5 linked regions of the Homo sapiens genome follow. The protein of the gene in region 3 purifies or fractionates together with the protein of the main gene of each other region. This does not show direct contact. Each region holds a gene or a part of one and is shown on either strand. Other genes may lie near its edges.

Region 1 (3,525 bases), on a different chromosome or scaffold from region 3:
CACTCTTCTAACCACTTTATTAATTCATTTAATTCTCACACCAACTCTATAAGGCTTTAGTGTTGTCAGTTTTGGCATGCTGAAGTTAAAACTCAGGGAAGGATTCTAAATGACCCAAAATTAAATATAGTATTTTGCTCATATTTTTATGCTTCTGTTGCCTATCCTGACTTACAGCTTCATTGCTCAAAAAAGATTATACTAGAATCACTTTTACATATTTTAGCTTCTCTAAAGTTGGTTTCATAAATAGAAAAAAGCACATATAGGCTTAAAAGTATATGCCTTAAAGGCATTGTTTGCTGCTTTTACTCTCTGCCTTTTTTCACTTTCTCTCTCTCTCTCTCTCTCTCTCTCTCTCTTTTTTATATAGAGGAATTACAAAATACTTTTGTTGAAATACACCTTAATCATCATCTAATCCAACTAACCTTTGGAAGCCGTGGGTAGCATATTCTCCCATAATTGTAGTCACTACTAACTTGTCAAACTATCTATGCTTAATTACACTTGCAGGGCTATTCCATTCATTTTTTAACTTCTCTTACTATTACAACCTCTTCCTTCTATTGGGTAAAAATATGTTATGTGATACCCCCCAAGCAGTCTCAGTTTTACTCTCTGGGCCATAACATCATAATGTCTACTAAAAATGTTTCATACATTACATTTCTGCCACATGGTTAGCTTTCTGCTAGCTTTCTGAGGAAGAGTACATTTCTAAAGACATTGCATGTGTGATCATGTGTCCGTCTCTCACATTTGAGAGTTCAGAAATGTCCTTCAGAGTTTGAAGGCATTGCTTCCATTTCAGTGAGAGATCTGAAGCTATTTCAGTGCTTAATCTTTTGTTTATGATCTCTTTTTATCCCCAACTCCCTGGACATGGATAGGCATTTTTCTTTGTCTACAGGGTTCTGAAATTTCAGTGATGTCCTTTAATGCGGGTTTCTTTCCATCCATTATACTCTTCACTCAGAATGCCCTTACAGTCTGTAAACTTACTCCCCTCACTTCTTGGATCTTTTCTTGAATAATATCTTAGATTTCTCCTCTGCTGCTTCTAGTGTTCTCTCTGGAGCAACTTTTGATTCTCCAATTTCTAAAAATCTTTTTTTTTTTAAATCTCCTTTTTTGAATTTTTGGGCAATTTCCTCCAGTTTATATAATAACCTTTCTATTGAGTTTTTTATTTTCTACACTTTTGAAATGCGTTCGGTACTAATTTTAAAAGTCTGCAATGTGGCTGGCAAGGCTGGTCTTTCTACTCTCCAGCTTGTTTCCTTCATTCTCTGTTTAGGTCCCACTAGCTTTCCAAAGTTTTAAAAAGCCACGTTTTCTCTTGTTACAGGGCCTTTTTGCACATGCTATGTAGCATTTCTATCCCATTTTACTTAGTTAACTCCTATTTATTTTTTTCATTGACAACTTATTGATTACATCCTCAAGCCTTCCCAGATCACATTAGCCAGGCCAGACCTCATTATATGCTTTCATGATTCCATGCACATTTTGCATTCTTTCCAATCAGACCACTAATGCAGCAGTCATGCATGTTTTTATCCCCAGTGCTTATTAAAAAGAACCCGTCACGTAATAGCCGCTCATTAAATATTTGTGTAACAAAAACAGAACGAATACGTAGGTTAAGTTCAACCAGAGGGATGGTATTTACTGAGAGTAACGGGGAGCCAGGATTTGGAACTCTGAGGAAGAATTGAGAGGGATCAGGTAAAGGAAGTACAGCCCCTGAAGGAGACTGAAAAGAACCAGCCAAAGAGGAGAAAGGGACACTTAGAAAGCACAGTGTCATGAAGCATTTTAAGCAGGAAAGAATGGTTAGCATTGCCAAAATAGGAGCAAGCAACATTGGGCTTGAAAAGGGGCTAATGGACTAATAAGAAAAGTAATTAATAACTGAACAGCCTCAAGGTGAATGGAAGGAAGGTTAAAGAAGAAGTAATGAAATAACGTGTGTAGATAACTCTGGAGTTTAGTTGTGAAGGGAAAGAAAATGATACCTAGAGAAGAGCATCAAAGTCAGATCTTTTTGTAGTTTGCTTTTTTACTTTGTTTTTACTTAACCCATTTATGCCTAAGGTTGCAATTTTTTGAATTTTTGCAATCAGACCTTGGCGATGACCTTGAACAACAGGGTATAAGTAACTCCCACATGCTTAGTGTTCCAGTAATGGAACACAGAAGAAACAGCATACAGCATTTAAATGAAGAGAGAGAAGATTTTTAAAAACTAGGAGTTGGGCAGCATAATTATTAATATAATTATTAATAGGTATCAGTCACATGTCCTTTTCAAGTACCAGAGACCATGCCAAGCATTTTACAGTCAGAAGCTAATCCCTGTAATACCTTACAGATATAATAGATATCGTCATCTGTCAAATGGTGATCTGTTTTATAAATGAGGGAACTGAGGCATGCAAGAGGGGGTAGAATCTAGAACCCTGATAGGAGTAGCCGCAGTAACTCCTCCATGTTTAAAGGAGGGCAGGGTGCCAGGATGGGTGTGGGTGCAAATGTATTTAGTTGAGGCGCGAGCATGGCATTAAAGAACATGGGCTTGGGAAACCGTAATGGCAGATTTCAGTTTATAGCCCAGCTCTGTTAGCTTTATAAATCCCAGAAAGTGACAGTTTCTTTCAGCTTGTTTCCTCTTCTTTAAATGGGGATAATAATAGGATTACAGGATATTAGCATGATCATTGTGATTAATATAAGTAAACAGTGCCTGAACACTGTTGGTGGGAATATGAATTAGTACAGCTATTATGGAAGTTCCTCAAAAAACTAAAAATAGAACTACCATGTGATCCAGCAATCCCACTAGTAGGTATATATCCAAAGGAAAGGAAATCAGTATGTCAAAGAGATACCTGTACTCCAGTGTTTATTGCTGCACTATTCATAATAGCCAGAATATGGAATCACCCTAAGTGTCCACTAATAGATGAATGGATAAAGAAAATGTGGTATATATACACAATGGAATACTATTCAGCCATAAAAAATAATGAAGTCCTTACATTTGCAGCAACATGGATGAACTGGAGGACATTAAGTGAAATAAGCCAGGCACAGAAAGATAAATACCACATGTACTCCCTCATGTGGAAGCTAAAAAGGTTGATTTCATAGAAGAGTATAGAATAGTGGTAGGTAGTAGAGGATGGGAAGGGTAGGGGGAGCAGGGATAGGGAGAGGTTGGTTAATGGATACAAAAGTACAGCTCGATAGGAGTAATTCTAGTGTTCTATAGCTCTATACGGTGAGTGTAATTAACAATTTATCGTATATTTTCAAATAGCTTGAAGAGCAGATTTTGAAAGTTCCCAACGCAATGATAAATGTTTGAGTTAATGGATATGCTAATTACCCCAATTTGATCATTACATATTGTAAACATATCAAAATATCATGTACATCATAAATATGTGTAATTGTGTGTCAGTTTAAAATAATAATAAAAGCAAAAACATAAGTAGTAATGGAAGGCAAGGTCCTTTG
Region 2 (3,525 bases), on a different chromosome or scaffold from region 3:
CAAAAACTTGTACATAAATGTTTATAGCAGCATTATTCATAATAGCCAAAAAGTAGAAACAACCTAGATTTCCGTCAGCTGATGAATGGATAAATAAAATGTGCTATATCCATATAATGGAATATAAAGTCATAAAAAGGAATGAAGAGGAATAAAGTCATGAAAAGAAATGAAGTACTGAGTCATGCTACAGCATGGATGAACCTTGAAAACATTATACTAAGAGAAAGCAACCAGACGAAAAACCACATCTTGTATTATTCCATTCATGTGAAATGTCCAGGTGAGGCAGATCTATAAACACAATATAGATTAGTGGTTTCCAGAATTTTGAGGGGAAGGATAATAGGGAGTGACAGCTAATGGGTATGGGATTTCTTTTTGGAGTGATGAAAATATTCCAGAACTAGATAATGGTGATGATTGTACAATTTTGTGAATATAGCAAAAAACACTGGATTGTGTACTTTTAAAGAGTGAATATTATGGTTATGTGAATTATAGCTTTAAAAATTAAAAACTAGGCCGGGCGCAGTGGCTTATGCCTGTAATCCCAGCACTTTGGGAGGCCGAGGCGGGCAGATCACGAGGTCAGGAGATCGAGACCATCCTGGCTAACACGGGGAAGCCCCGTCACTACTAAAAATACAAAAAATTAGCCAGGCATGGTGGTGGGCGCCTGTAGTCCCACCTACTCGGGAGACTGAGGCAGGAGAATGGCGTGAACCCGGGGGGGCAGAGCCTGCAGTGAGCCGAGATCGCGCCACTGCACTCCAGCCTGGGTGACAGAGCGAGACTCCGTCTCAAAAAAAAAAAAAAGAAAAAAGAAAACCATCCACAACCCAATCTAAAATTTAAATTGGGCTAGGCACTGTGGCTCACACCTGTAATCCCAGCACTTTCGGAGGTCAAAGCAGGCAGTTCACCTGAGGTTAGGAGTTCAAAACCAGCCTGGCCAACATGGTGAGACCCCTTCTCTACTAAAAATACAAAAATTAGCTGGGTGTGGTGGCGCATGCCTATAATCCCAGCTACTCAGGAGGCTGAGGCAGGAGAATCACTTGAACCCAGGAGGCAGATGTTGCAGTGAGCTGAGATCGCGCTTCTGCACTCCAGCCTGGGCGACAGAGACTCCATCTCAAAAATAAATACATTAATTAATAAAAAAATAAAATTTAAATTGCATAAGAACCTTAGATTTGGGCCAGGCACGGAGGCTCATATCTGTGACCTCAGCACTTTGGGAGGCCAAGGGTTGCGGATCACCTGAGCTCAAGAATTTGAGAACAGCCTAGGCAATATGGCGAAACCCTGTCTCTACAAAACATATAAAAATTAGCCGAGTGAAGGCAGGGCGCGGTGGCTCACGCATGTAATCCCAGCACTTTGGGAGGCCAAGGCGGGTGGATCACGACGTGGTCAGGAGATCAAGACCATCCTGGCTCACATGGTGAAACCCCGTCTCTACTAAAAATACAAAAAATTAGCCGGGCATGGTGGTGGGCGCCTGTAGTCCCAGCTACTTGGGAGGCTGAGGCAGGAGAATGGCGTGAACCCGGGAGGCGGAGCTTGCAGTGAGCCGAGATCGCGCCACTGCACGCCAGCCTGGGTGACAGAGCGAGACTCTGTCTCAAAAAAAAAAAAAAAAAAAAAAAAAATTAGCCGAGTGTGGTGGTGTGTGCCTATAGTCCCAACTACTTGGGAGGCTGAGGTGGGAGGATGTCTTCAGCCCAGGAGATGGAGGGTCCAGTGAGCCGAGTACGTGCCACTCCACTCCAACATGAGTGACAGAGCCAGACTGTGTCTCAAAAACAAACAAAACCCTTAGATTTATAAACATAAAGCTTTGAGTGCCTTAAAGTGGATGTTAGAAAGAAACACTGAATGTGATGAGGGTGGAGAAACAACAGAAATCACTTCCTTGTCAATGTCGGCACATGATACCAGATGTTTGGATTTCTGCTTGCTGGGTATACCTCATTTTTGCTATGGTTACTATTCTTTGGTTTCCCTAGAAGCTTTGGATAATTTTTAGGAATTAGTGTTTATATTTTAACATAACTTTTAGTAGTGGAATTATGAGAACATCCAGTTAGCATTTATCAATTGAATTGTTTTTTTGAAGCAGAGTCTCACTCTGTCGCCCAGGCTGGGGTGCAGTGATGTGATCTTGTCTCACTGCAATCTCCGCCTCCCAGGTCCAAGCAATTCTCCTGCCTCAGCCTTCCGAGTACCTGGGATTACAGGCGTGTACCACAATGCCTGGCTAATTTTTGTATTTTTTTTTTCCACTCTGGCTAGGCTGGAGTGCAGTGGCGCGATCTCAGCTCACTGCAACCTCTGCCTCCCGGGTTCAAGTGATTCTGCCTCAACCTCCCGAGTAGCTGGGATTACAGGCAGCCACCACTACGCCCGGCTAATTTTTGTATTTTTAGTAGAGACGGGGTTTCACCATGTTGGTCAGGCTGGTCTCGAACTTCCAATCTCAAGTGATCAGCCTGCCTTGGCCTCCCAAAGTGCTGGACAGGTATGAGCCACCACCCCGGCTTAATTTTTGTATTCTCAGTAGAGATGGGGTTTTATCATGTTGCCCAGGCTGGTCTCGAACTCCTGGTCTCAAGTGACCCACCCACCTCAGCCTCCCAAAGTACTGGGATTACAGGCGCGAGCTACCACAACCGGCCTATCAGTTGAATAGTAAAAAATAATTTTTTTTTGAGGCGGAGTCTCGCTCTGTTGCCCAGTCTGGAGTACAGTGGCGTGATCTCGGCTCACTGCAACCTTGCCTGGCTAATTTTTGTATTTGTATTTTTATTTTATTATTATTATTATTTTTTTTTTGAGATGGAGTCTTGCTCTGCTGCCCAGTCTGGAGTACAGTGGGGTGATCTCGGCTCACTGCAACCTCCACCTCCCGGGTTCAAGTGATTCTTCTTCCTCAGCCTCCTGAGTAGCTGGGATTACAGGTGCCTGCCACCATGCCTGGCTAATTTTTGTATTTTCAGTAGAGATGGGGTTTCACCATGTTGGCCAGGCTAGTCTTGAACTCCTGACCTTATGTTCTGTCTGCCTCGGCCTCCCAAAGTGCTGGGATTACAAGCATGAGCCACTGTGCCTGGCAATTTTTGTATTTTTAGCAGAGACGGGGTTTCACCATGTTGGTCAGGCTGGTCTTGAACTCCTGACCTCGTGATCCACCCGCCTCGGCCTCCCAAAGTGCTGGGATTACAGGCGTGAGCCACCGCGCCCAGCCTAAAGCATAAATTTTAAGTTATTGCAGAATAAAATGCATTATTAGTATGTCAATTTAATGCTCTTTATCTTTATTTCTCATGTTTTAAACTTAGCTGCTTTCTCTTTTCTCTAAGAAGCAGAAACTTGTGAAACAATTGCCTTTAACTTCTATATGCTTAGAAACAGATTCACCTGCACTAGGACCAGAAAAACAGGTAAATGGTTTTCTAATTTCTATATTATTTAGATTGTATCTTTCATTTGAGTTCTTTTCAATTTAGCTGTATTTCT
Region 3 (3,500 bases):
AGACAGTAAAACATTTTCATCCTGCCTTTTATATGTATTTTAGAATGTTTTAATGATAGAATTTTCAGATGATATAATAGGATATTTTCTACTGAGAATAACACAAAATAATTTCAATTTGTTTTGTCTGTTTTTTTTTTTTTTTTTTTTTTTGAGACGGCGTCACGCTCTGTCACACAGGCTGGAGTGCAGTGGCGCGATCCTGGCTCACTGCAAGCTCCGCCTCCCGAGTTCACGCCATTCTCCTGCCTCAGCCTCTCGAGTAGCTAATCTCGTGTAGCGCTACCGCGCCCGGCTGATTTTTTTTGTATTTTTATTAGAGATGGGGTTTCACCGTGTTAGCCAGGATGGTCTCGATCTCCTGACCTTGTGATCCTCCTGCCTTGGCCTCCCAAGGTGCTGGGATTACAGGCGTGAGCCACCGCGCCCGGCCTGCCTTGTCAGGTTTTTTGCAGGGAGGTTTTTTTATCAAAGAAATGAGCCTTTCACTTGTCTGGTTCTTTTCCTGGAATAGGAACTTTGTGGATGTAGTGAAAGATCTCAAGGTGAAGTTGAGATCCTCAACTTAGAGCCTTTAGGTGGGCCCTAAATCCAGTGAATGGTGTCCTTTTAAGGAAGAGGAAGGGACACAGTCACATACAAAGGAAAAAGTCCATGTGAAAATGGAGACGAGATCAGTTACTGCTGCCACATGCTATGGAATGCCAGAAGCCACCAGAAGTAGGAAGAGGCAAGGAGGGATTCTTCCCTTTGGATGTAGCATAGCTCTGCTGTGACCTTGATTTTAGATTTTGGGCCACCAGAACTATGAGAGGAAATTTCTGTTGTTTTAAGCCACCAAATTTATGGTAATTTATTAAGGCAGCCTTAGGAAATGAATGCAAGTTCCCTTTTATCCTAACTTTTCAGACCCATTTTGATTTCTTTATTCAAGTTTCCACTTACAGAGTCTACTGTACATATGTTTACACAATCAGATCCTGTCTTTGGCTCATCTCTGATTGTTTCATGAATCTAGAAAGCAGTTATTCTGAGGCTTTAGTGTGTTATAAGTAGAGGCTCTTGAAAAGCTTCTTAAAAGGTCTGGGCTCAAGTATTTAAGAATATTTAAAAAGTTTTGTGTTCTGCTTTTGATATTTTGTTTTGCTTAGACTTAGACTTGATGTAACTAAATTTGTTTATATAACCTATGTTATCTTTTCATTCAGAAAAGTCTTTGAAAATCTTTAAAATGGCCGGGCGCGGTGGCTCACGCCTGTAATCCCAGCACTTCGGGAGGCCGAGGCAGGTGGATCATGAGGTCAGGCGTTCGAGACCAGCCTGGCCAGCATAGTGAAACTCCGTCTCTACTAAAAATACAAAAAGTTAGCCGGGCGTGGTGGCAGTGGGCGCCTGTAATCCCAGCTATTTAGGAGGCTGAGGCAGGAGAATCGCTTGAACCTGGAAGGCGGAGGTTGCAGTGAGCCAAGATTGTGCTACTGCACTCCAGCCCGAGAGACAGTGCGAGAGTCCGTCTCAAAAAAAAAAAAAGAAAATCTTTAAAATATTTCATATTACCACTGGCGTGTCTTTAGGAAACGCCATGTGAGGCTATTAATTTTTCTTAACAAAAATGTGTACATTGAGACTTCATTTAATCAGCTGTTTAACAATCCTCATCTGTCAGAACTTTGCTAAGAAATAATAAAAATATAAGCAGTCAAAGTACATATTTTGAAGGCCAAGCACTTTATATAGAAGAGAATCTCTATGGCTTTTACTCAGTCTGTATGCTTTTATAATTCCAGTAAGTTTGGTAATTTGATATTTTTTATAAACGAATCCTTCAAATCATTTTCAAAAGTGTAACTACAACAATAAAATTTACTGTGATACGGGGCCCGGCGTGGTGGCTGGCGCCTGTGATCCCAGCACTTTGGGAGGCTGAGGCGGGCAGATCATGAGGTGAGGAGATCGAGACCATCCTGGCTAACACAGTGAAACCCCGTCTCTACTAAAAATACAAAAAATTAGCCAGTCGTAGTGGCGGGCGCCTGTAGTCCTAGCTACTTGGGAGGCTGAGGCAGGAGAATGGTGTGAGCCCGGGAGGCGGAGCTTGCAGTGAGCCGAGATTGCGCCACTGCACTCCAGCCTGGGTGACAGAGTGAGACTCTGTCTCAAAAAAAAAAAAAAAAAAAAAATTTACCGTGATACTCTTAGCTGAAGATAAATAACTACTGTTAACTTTTTGAAAAACAACTTTCTGATAAATGATTTACATACTATAGTATTTACTTTTTTTGAGTGTAATGATTTTTGGTAAATTTACTGAATTATGCAGCCATCAGCATAAATCCAGTTTTAGAACATTTCTATTACCTCAATAAAATCTGTAGTGCCCTTGTTGTCATCCCTAGCTTCTGGCATTCACTAATCTATTTTCTGTCTTTAGAGTTGCCTTTTCTGGACATTTCATGAAATGCAGTTATACACAGGTGGTCGTTAGTGTCTGGTTTCTTTCAGTATGTTTTTGAGGTTCATTCATGAAGTTTGTATCCACACTTCATTTCCTTTTATTGATGAATAGCATTCCATTGTTTAGATATCCTATATTTTGTTTATCCATTTACCAGTTGATGGATATTTGGGTTGAATGAATAATACTGCCATGAATATTTGTGTATAAGTCTTTGTGTGGACGTAAACTGTTATTTGTCCTAGGTAGACAAACTGGGAAGGGAATTGGTGGGCCACTTGATAAATTTATGTTTAACTTTTTAAGAAACTGCTAAATTCTTTTCCAGCCTACATACCCACCAGCAGTGTATGAGGCTTCCCGTTTCTTCAAATTCTCACCAATATTTGTTACTGCCTTTTTATTTTTAGCCATCCTAGTTGTTATGATGAAGTGTTACTTCATTGAAACACTGTTAACTTTTTGAAGTACAGATTAAATATCCTTTATCAGAAATGCTTGGGATCAGAAATGTTTTCAATTTTGTTTTTTTTTTTTTTTTTGGACTTTGGAATATTTGCATATACATAATGAAATATCTTGGGGATGAGATTGAAGTCTAAACACAAAATTTACTAATGTTTCACATCCACCTTATACACAATCCAAAGGTAATTTTATGCACTATTCTTTTTTTTTTTTTTTTTTTTTGAGACGGAGTTTAGCTATTGTTGCTCAGGCTGGAGTGCAGTGGTGCGATCTCAGCTCACTGTAACTTCCGCTTCCCAGGTTCAAGTGATTCTCCTGTCTCAGCCTCCCAAGTAGCTGGGATTACAGGCATGCGCCACCATGCTCAGCTAATTTTGTATTTTTAGTAGAGATGGGGTTTTGCCATGTTGGCCAGGCTGGTTTCAAACTCTGACCTCAGGTGATCCGCTGACCTTGGCCTCCCAAAGTGCTGGGATTACAGGCATGAGCCACTGCACCTGGTCTTATGCACTGTTGTTAATTTTGTGCATGAAACAAAATTTTGACTGTGTTTTGACTGTGACCCATCACGTGAGAT
Region 4 (3,525 bases), on a different chromosome or scaffold from region 3:
TTTTATACTTTTCTGCATTTCCAAATTTTCTACAATGAACATGTGATATACTTATAAGCAGGAAAAAAAATCCCTTAAAGTGGTTGAGTGGAGGAGTTTGAACTTTACTTGTTTTGTATCTGCCAAATTTATGCCAATTTACAGTGAGAGAAGAAATGTAGATAACACAAGAATCAAACAAAAAGAACTCTTTGAGATAACCAAGAGTTGGTTTTATTTGCCTACTTCAAAAGGTTGTTTTGTGAGTTCTTAAGTAACTATAAATATTTATACAGGTGTTGCTACAATGCCAGAAAATTAAAATAATGAGGATAATTATTTATATTACAAAATATTAATGATATCACAAGATCACATAAGCATTGTACAATTCCACTAGATACATGGAAACCTTCTCTGTGCATTTTTTTTTTGAGACAGAGTTTCGCTCTTGTTGCCCAGGCTGGAGTGCAATGGCGCGATCTCGGCTCACCACAACCTCCGCCTCCTGGGTTCAAGCGATTCTCCTGCCTCAGCTTCCTGAGTAGCTGGGATTACAGCCATGTGCCACCACGCATGGCTAATTTTGTATTTTTAGTAGAGACAGGGTTTCTTCATGTTGGTCAGGCTGGTCTCAAACTCCTGACCTCAGGTGATCCGCCTGTCTTGGCTTCCCAAAGTACTGGGATTACAGGTGTGAGCCACCGTGCCCGGCCTCTGTGCATTTTAATTATGGTTCAGTTTCTAAAAATTCTGTTTGCAAGCCACTTTTCAGGGCAGCATATCTAATGTGTTCAGCAAGATAAGATTAAACCATATAAAGTTATTGTAAAACTTGGGGTAGCTGGATTTGATACATACACTTAAAACACAACTGACAAAAATCATATCTAGTTACTTCAGTTGTCCTCAAAGGACCATGGAGTAGAAGCTGAAACATATAGTCATCTTCATCATTGTCATTATGACCATCATCTCATTTTTTTAGATTTCAGCATAATTTTATATATAGCCATGCATCATACATTCTGAGAAATGCATTGTTAGGCCATTTCATCATTGTGTGAACATCAAGATGTGTACTTCCACAAACCTAGATGGTGTAGCCTACTGCACACCTAGGCTATGTGGCATAGCCTATTGCTTCTAGGCTACAAAGCCAGACAGCATGTTACTGTATTGAATACTGTAGGCAAATGTAACACAATAGTATTTGTGTATCTAAACGTAGAAAGGGTACAGTGAAAATATGGTATAAAGATAAAAAATGGGATACTTGTGTAGGGAACTTATCATGAATGGAGTTTGCAGGATTAGAAGCTGCTCTGGGTGAGTCAGTGAGTCAGTGTTGAGCGAATATGAAGGCCTAGTACATTACTGTACACTACTGTAGACTTTAAAAACACTGTACACTTAAGCTATACCTAATTTGTAAAAACCATTTTTTCTCTCTCCAATAATAAGTTAACCTTATCTTACTATAACTTTTTTACTTTATAAACTTTTTAATTAGGCCGGGTGTGGTGGCTCATGCCTGTAATACCAGCACTTTGGGAGGCCGAGGCAGGTAAACCACCTGAGGTCAGGAGATTGAGACCAGCCTGGCCAACATAGTGAATCCCCATCTCTACTAAAAATACAAAATTTAGCTGGGCATGGTGGCACATGCCTGTAATCCCAGTTACTTGGGAGGCTGAGGCAGGAGAATTGCTTGAAACTGGGGAGGCGGACGTTGCAGTGAACTGGGATCACCACGCCACTGCACTCCAGTCTGGGAGGCAAGAAAGAAACGTCATCTCAAAAAAACAAAAACAAAAACAAAAACAAAACAAAAAACCCCCAAACTTTTAAATTAAAAAAACCTTTTTGACTCTTTTTGTAATAGCACTTAGCTTAAAACACATTGTATAGCTATACAAAAATATTCTCATTATTTATAACATTATTTTATAAACTTTTTTCTATTTTTAAAACTTTAAATTTTTTCTTTCCTTTTCACACTTTTTTGTTAAAAACTAAGATACTCACGCCTGTAATCCCAGCACTTTGGGAGGCTGAGGCGGGCGAATCATTTGAGGTCGGGGGTTCAAGACCAGCATGGCCAATATGGTGAAATCCCGTCTCTACTAAAAATTCAAAAAATTAGCTGGGCATGGTGGTGAGTGCCTGTAATCCCAGCTACTAGGAAGCTGAGGTGGGAGAATTGCTTGAACCTGGGAGGCGGAGGTTGCAATGAGGTGAGATTGTGCTGCTGCACTCCAGCCTGGGCGACTGAGACTCTGTCTCAAACAAACAAACAAACAAACAAACAAAACTAAGATACAGACACATTAGCCTTAGCCTACACAGGCTCAGGATTATCAGTATCACTGTATCTATTTACACATCCTGTCCGTTGGAAGGTCCTTCGGGGCAATAACATGCATGGAGCTGTCATCTCCTGTAATAACAATGCTGTTTTCTGGGATACCTTCTGAAGGACCTGCCTGAGGCTGTTTTACAGTTAAACTTCTTTTCACTTTTTTTTTTTAATTAAGTAGGAACACACCCCAAAATAATGATAAAAAGTATAGTACAGTAAATGTATAAACCAGTAACAGTTGTTTATTATCAAGTATTATATACTATACATAATTGTATGTGCTATACTTTTATACAACTGGCAGCACAGGTTTGCTTACACCAGCCTCATCACAAGCACATGAGCGATACATTGTGCTACAACAACATTGCAATAGCGATGATGTCACTAGGCTGTAGGAATTTTTCAGCTCCATTATAATTTGTGGGACCACTGTCATATATGTGGTTTGTGGGTGACCAAAATATTGTCAATGTGCTGCATGGCTGTCTATTATCTATTTTATCCTGGTAAGTCTGTTATTATCATCACTTTCATGAGAGAACTAAGGTATGAAACAAATAAATGGCTTTTCCAAGGTCACACACACAGCAAGGTGTAAAATTCACATCTCTTAATCATTGATTTGCTGTTCTTATATCACTATCTATAAAGTGGAACTGGATTCTCAGCATTAATAAAACTAATAAAATCTTGATATTGTATAGAGCTTTATATTTTACAAATTCTTTGACAGATTATCTAATTTCAGTCTGAGAACATTACTATGAGATAAAACCACGAGGTGATACTGAATTGAGTCTTTATCAAACAGCTTCTGATGTCTTATATTGTGGCAGGCAGTATCTCAGGTGGCTCTCAATGATTTGGTTCCTGTAGGTATTCCTCCCACTGTGTAATCCCTTCCCCTTGAATTAGGCTGAAACTAGTGACTTGTCTCTAATGAGGAACACAGCAGAAGCCATGGGATATCACTTCTGATATCAGGTTACAAAAAGACCTTGGCTTCTATTTTGCTATCTTTCAATCTTAGCCCTTGCTCCAAGGACAGCAAGCTGCAACATCTGCATGAAGCACTCTGTTTTGTTAGTAGCCCTATAGAGAGGTCCATGTGGTAGCAAAAGAACGTCTCCAGCCAGCAGCCAGCTGGGACCTGAGGCTTGTCAACAGCCACGTGAGCGAGC
Region 5 (3,525 bases), on a different chromosome or scaffold from region 3:
CTGGTTTTGAACTCCTGACCTCAGGTGATCAGCCCGCCTCGGCCTCCCAAAGTGCTGGGATTACAGGCATGAGCCGTCATCCCTGGCTGGTGGTTTCTTATGACGTGAAACATGCAATTACCATATGACCTAGCAGTTGCACTCTGTATTTATCCCAGATAAATGAAAACTTACCTTCCAATAAAAACCTGTGCACAAATGTTCATAGCAGCTTAATATTGAAAAACTGGATGTTCTTCAGCAGGTGAATGAACTGGTTCATTCATACCATGGAATACCATTCAGCAATAAAAAGGAACAAACTGTTGATACATTTAACCACCTGGATGAATATCAAGGGAATTATGCTGTCAGACAAAAACCAGTCCCTAAAGACTACATATAGTATGATTCCGTTTGGATAATATTCTTGAAATAGAGAAATTAAGAGAAATGAAAAGATTAGTGTTTGCCAGATGTTAGAGACAGGGAGGTGAGAGGGGTAAGTGGGTGTAGTTATAAAAGTGCAACATGAGGGATCTTTGTGATGTTGAAGTTGTATCTTGGCAGTGGATGCAGAAATCTCAATGTGATAAAATTACAAAGAACTAAAAACAAGAATGAGTATAGATAAAACTGGGGAAATCTGAACAAGTTAGAGTGTTGTATCACTGTCAGTATCTTAGAGTGATATTGTACTATAGCTTTGCAAGATGTTACCATGGGAGAAACTAAAGTGTACAAGGGATCTCTAGGTATTATTATTTTTTTAGAGATGGGGTTTCACTATGTTCCCCAGGCCGGTCTTGAACTCCTGGGCTCTAGTGATCCGCCTGCCCCAGCCTCCTAAAGTACTGGAATTACAGGCGTGAGCGACCATGCCTGGCCCTTTCAGTATTGTATCTTAGAACTTCATGTGAATCTAGCATTATCTCATAGAATTTAATTAAAAGAAATTGTAAACCTCACAGAAGATCAGAATTTCCTCAAGTTTGTGATGTTGACAAAGATGAACTAGTTGACACTGACAGTAAGACTGAGGATGAAGACACGACGTGCTTCAAAAAAATGATTTGAATATCAATGGATTAAGAAGAACTCTTTTGACAAATTGATGAAACCCTCAGTCAGTTTTATAAGAATGCCCATCTTTATGATCATGCTATGAAAGCCAATTTTTAAAAAAATTTTTTGTCTTTCCTAACAATTAGCTTGTGGTTATAATTTAAATTTAGTTAAATATAAGATAAATGATTTTTTATTAAGTTTAGTTTCATTTTTCAAGGTACGATCTCAAAGCTACTCTTTAACCTACTATGAATGAATAATGCTGAGTTCATAACATCTTTGTAGATATATCCACAATTTTCCCTCAGGATAAGTGCCTACAAGTGGAATTACTGGACTGAAAATAATGCAGTTTGCTAAGACTTTGCTATCTGTTCCTGAATGCTCCTCCAAAAAGGTTTTGCCAGTTTACATCCTCATGACCAGCGAATGAGAGTGTTGCCTATTTTCCTGTGCCCTTGTTACTGCTTAATAATTTTTGAAAAAAATCTAATTTGACAGACAAAAATGCATTTTATGTTAATTTGCTTTTCTGGGATTTTTAATGAGGTTGAGTATAGTTTTTAATATTTTTATTGGCCCCTTTGGAACTAGTATCATAAGTTTTTTTTCTTAAGAATTTATGTAGTCTGGGCTGGGCGCAGTGGCTCACGCCTGCAATCCCAGCACTTTGGGAGGCCGAGGTGGGTGGATTGCCGAAGGTCAGGAGTTTGAGACCATCCTGACCAACATGGTGAAACCGAATCTCTACTAAAAGTACAAAAACTAGCTCAGCGTGGTGGCGGGTGCCTGTAATCCCAGCTACTTAGGAGGCTGAGTCAAGAGAATCGCTTGAACCCGGGAGGTGGAGGTTGGTTGCATTGAGCCGAGATCGCGCCATTGCTCTCCAGCCTAGGCAACAAGAGTGAAAAGTCTCAAAAAAAAAAAAAAAAAAAAAAAAAAGAATTTACATGGTCTGAATTGCCATTAAAAGAGATATGAGAATTATTGAGTAACAAATAACTTTTTAATAATTTAGGCAAGTTTTGGACGATTGTACTTTGTTTAGAAACCAAAAGCATAGTATTTGTAGTTTTTTTATTTACTTTAGTTGCTAGGAAGTAAACTTTATTCAAGGTCTCTGGTACCAGTTGTTGCTAAAAGTGATTGACTAATCTGTCAATCTGAAATTATTTGTTGCTGAACTGCTAATTCTTTTGCTTCTATCTTTTAGGCAGATCTTGTCTGGACTACCAGACTCAAGAGACCAAATCAAGCCTTTCTAAGACCCTTGAACAAGTCTTGCACGACACTATTGTCCTCCCTTACTTCATTCAATTCATGGAACTTCGGCGAATGGAGCATTTGGTGAAATTTTGGTTAGAGGCTGAAAGTTTTCATTCAACAACTTGGTCGCGAATAAGAGCACACAGTCTAAACACAGTGAAGCAGAGCTCACTGGCTGAGCCTGTCTCTCCATCTAAAAAGCATGAAACTACAGCGTCTTTTTTAACTGATTCTCTTGATAAGAGATTGGAGGATTCTGGCTCAGCACAGTTGTTTATGACTCATTCAGAAGGAATTGACCTGAATAATAGAACTAACAGCACTCAGAATCACTTGCTGCTTTCCCAGGAATGTGACAGTGCCCATTCTCTCCGTCTTGAAATGGCCAGAGCAGGAACTCACCAAGTTTCCATGGAAACCCAAGAATCTTCCTCTACACTTACAGTAGCCAGTAGAAATAGTCCCGCTTCTCCACTAAAAGAATTGTCAGGAAAACTAATGAAAAGTGAGTATGTGATTTTCTTGTGTGTACATATGTGTCTCACTTTCTTTTTTTAATTTACTAAGCAGAACTTCAGATGAGGAATAAAATGATTGGAATATTTTTTTTCTCCTCTAACTACTTGTAAATTTGGGAGAATTTGGAGAGTGTAGTAGAGTCAGATCAGTGTATGGAAAAGGAGCAGGAGTGACTGGACCTTCTAAGAAGTGTGTTATCAGAATTAGTAAATGAAGGGTCAAATGTCCTACTTTTCCCCTCCACTGATTTTGACATCAAACCATTATCCACATAGCCTTATTTCCTCCCTCGGTCTTAATTTTATTAATATTTTACTGCACTTTGCAGATAAAATTTTTAAAAAATTTTTAAAAATTGCCAATAAGTGACATTTATTAAGTTCAGTGCTTAGTGTATATTTGGATTTTATTTATTAGTCACAAGACCTTTGTGCAGGTAGTAGGCATGATTATCTTTTTTTTTTTGAGATGGAGTCTTGCTCTGTCGCCCAGGCTGGAGTGCAATGGCGCGGTCTCGGCTCACTGCAACCTCCGGGTTCATGCCATTCTCCTGCCTCAGCCTCCCAAATAGCTGGGACTACAGGCGCCTGCCACCACACCCGGCTAATTTTTTTGTATTTTTAGTAGAGACGGGGTTTCACCATGTTCGCCAGGATGGTCTCGATCTCCTGACTTTGTGATCCGCCTGCCTCG

The links.
Region 1: the proteins of ARFGEF1 (region 3) and BORA purify together in Homo sapiens (affinity purification with mass spectrometry; one large-scale study listed by BioGRID and IntAct). This does not show direct contact.
Region 2: the proteins of ARFGEF1 (region 3) and TATDN3 purify together in Homo sapiens (affinity purification with mass spectrometry; one large-scale study listed by BioGRID and IntAct). This does not show direct contact.
Region 4: the proteins of ARFGEF1 (region 3) and HTR1E purify together in Homo sapiens (co-immunoprecipitation; one large-scale study listed by IntAct). This does not show direct contact.
Region 5: the proteins of ARFGEF1 (region 3) and AKAP10 purify together in Homo sapiens (affinity purification with mass spectrometry; one large-scale study listed by BioGRID and IntAct). This does not show direct contact.

What each region holds. Positions count from the first base shown.
Region 1 is NC_000013.11:72,748,398-72,751,922, forward strand, and holds part of BORA (protein aurora borealis), read left to right. Parts: intron 1-3,525. UniProt on the Homo sapiens protein: Required for the activation of AURKA at the onset of mitosis.
Region 2 is NC_000001.11:212,808,880-212,812,404, forward strand, and holds part of TATDN3 (deoxyribonuclease TATDN3), read left to right. Parts: intron 1-3,347; coding exon of another isoform or gene 3,348-3,368; coding exon 3,369-3,449; intron 3,450-3,525. UniProt on the Homo sapiens protein: Exhibits 3'-exonuclease activities and apurinic/apyrimidinic (AP) endonuclease (in vitro). Show preferential AP endonuclease activity on double-stranded DNA substrates and 3'- exonuclease activity on single-stranded DNA.
Region 3 is NC_000008.11:67,333,782-67,337,281, reverse strand, and holds part of ARFGEF1 (brefeldin A-inhibited guanine nucleotide-exchange protein 1), read left to right. Parts: intron 1-3,500. UniProt on the Homo sapiens protein: Promotes guanine-nucleotide exchange on ARF1 and ARF3. Promotes the activation of ARF1/ARF3 through replacement of GDP with GTP. Involved in vesicular trafficking.
Region 4 is NC_000006.12:86,944,005-86,947,529, reverse strand, and holds part of HTR1E (5-hydroxytryptamine receptor 1E), read right to left. Parts: intron 1-3,525. UniProt on the Homo sapiens protein: G-protein coupled receptor for 5-hydroxytryptamine (serotonin). Also functions as a receptor for various alkaloids and psychoactive substances.
Region 5 is NC_000017.11:19,957,307-19,960,831, reverse strand, and holds part of AKAP10 (A-kinase anchor protein 10, mitochondrial isoform 1 precursor), read left to right. Parts: intron 1-2,260; coding exon 2,261-2,818; intron 2,819-3,525. UniProt on the Homo sapiens protein: Differentially targeted protein that binds to type I and II regulatory subunits of protein kinase A and anchors them to the mitochondria or the plasma membrane.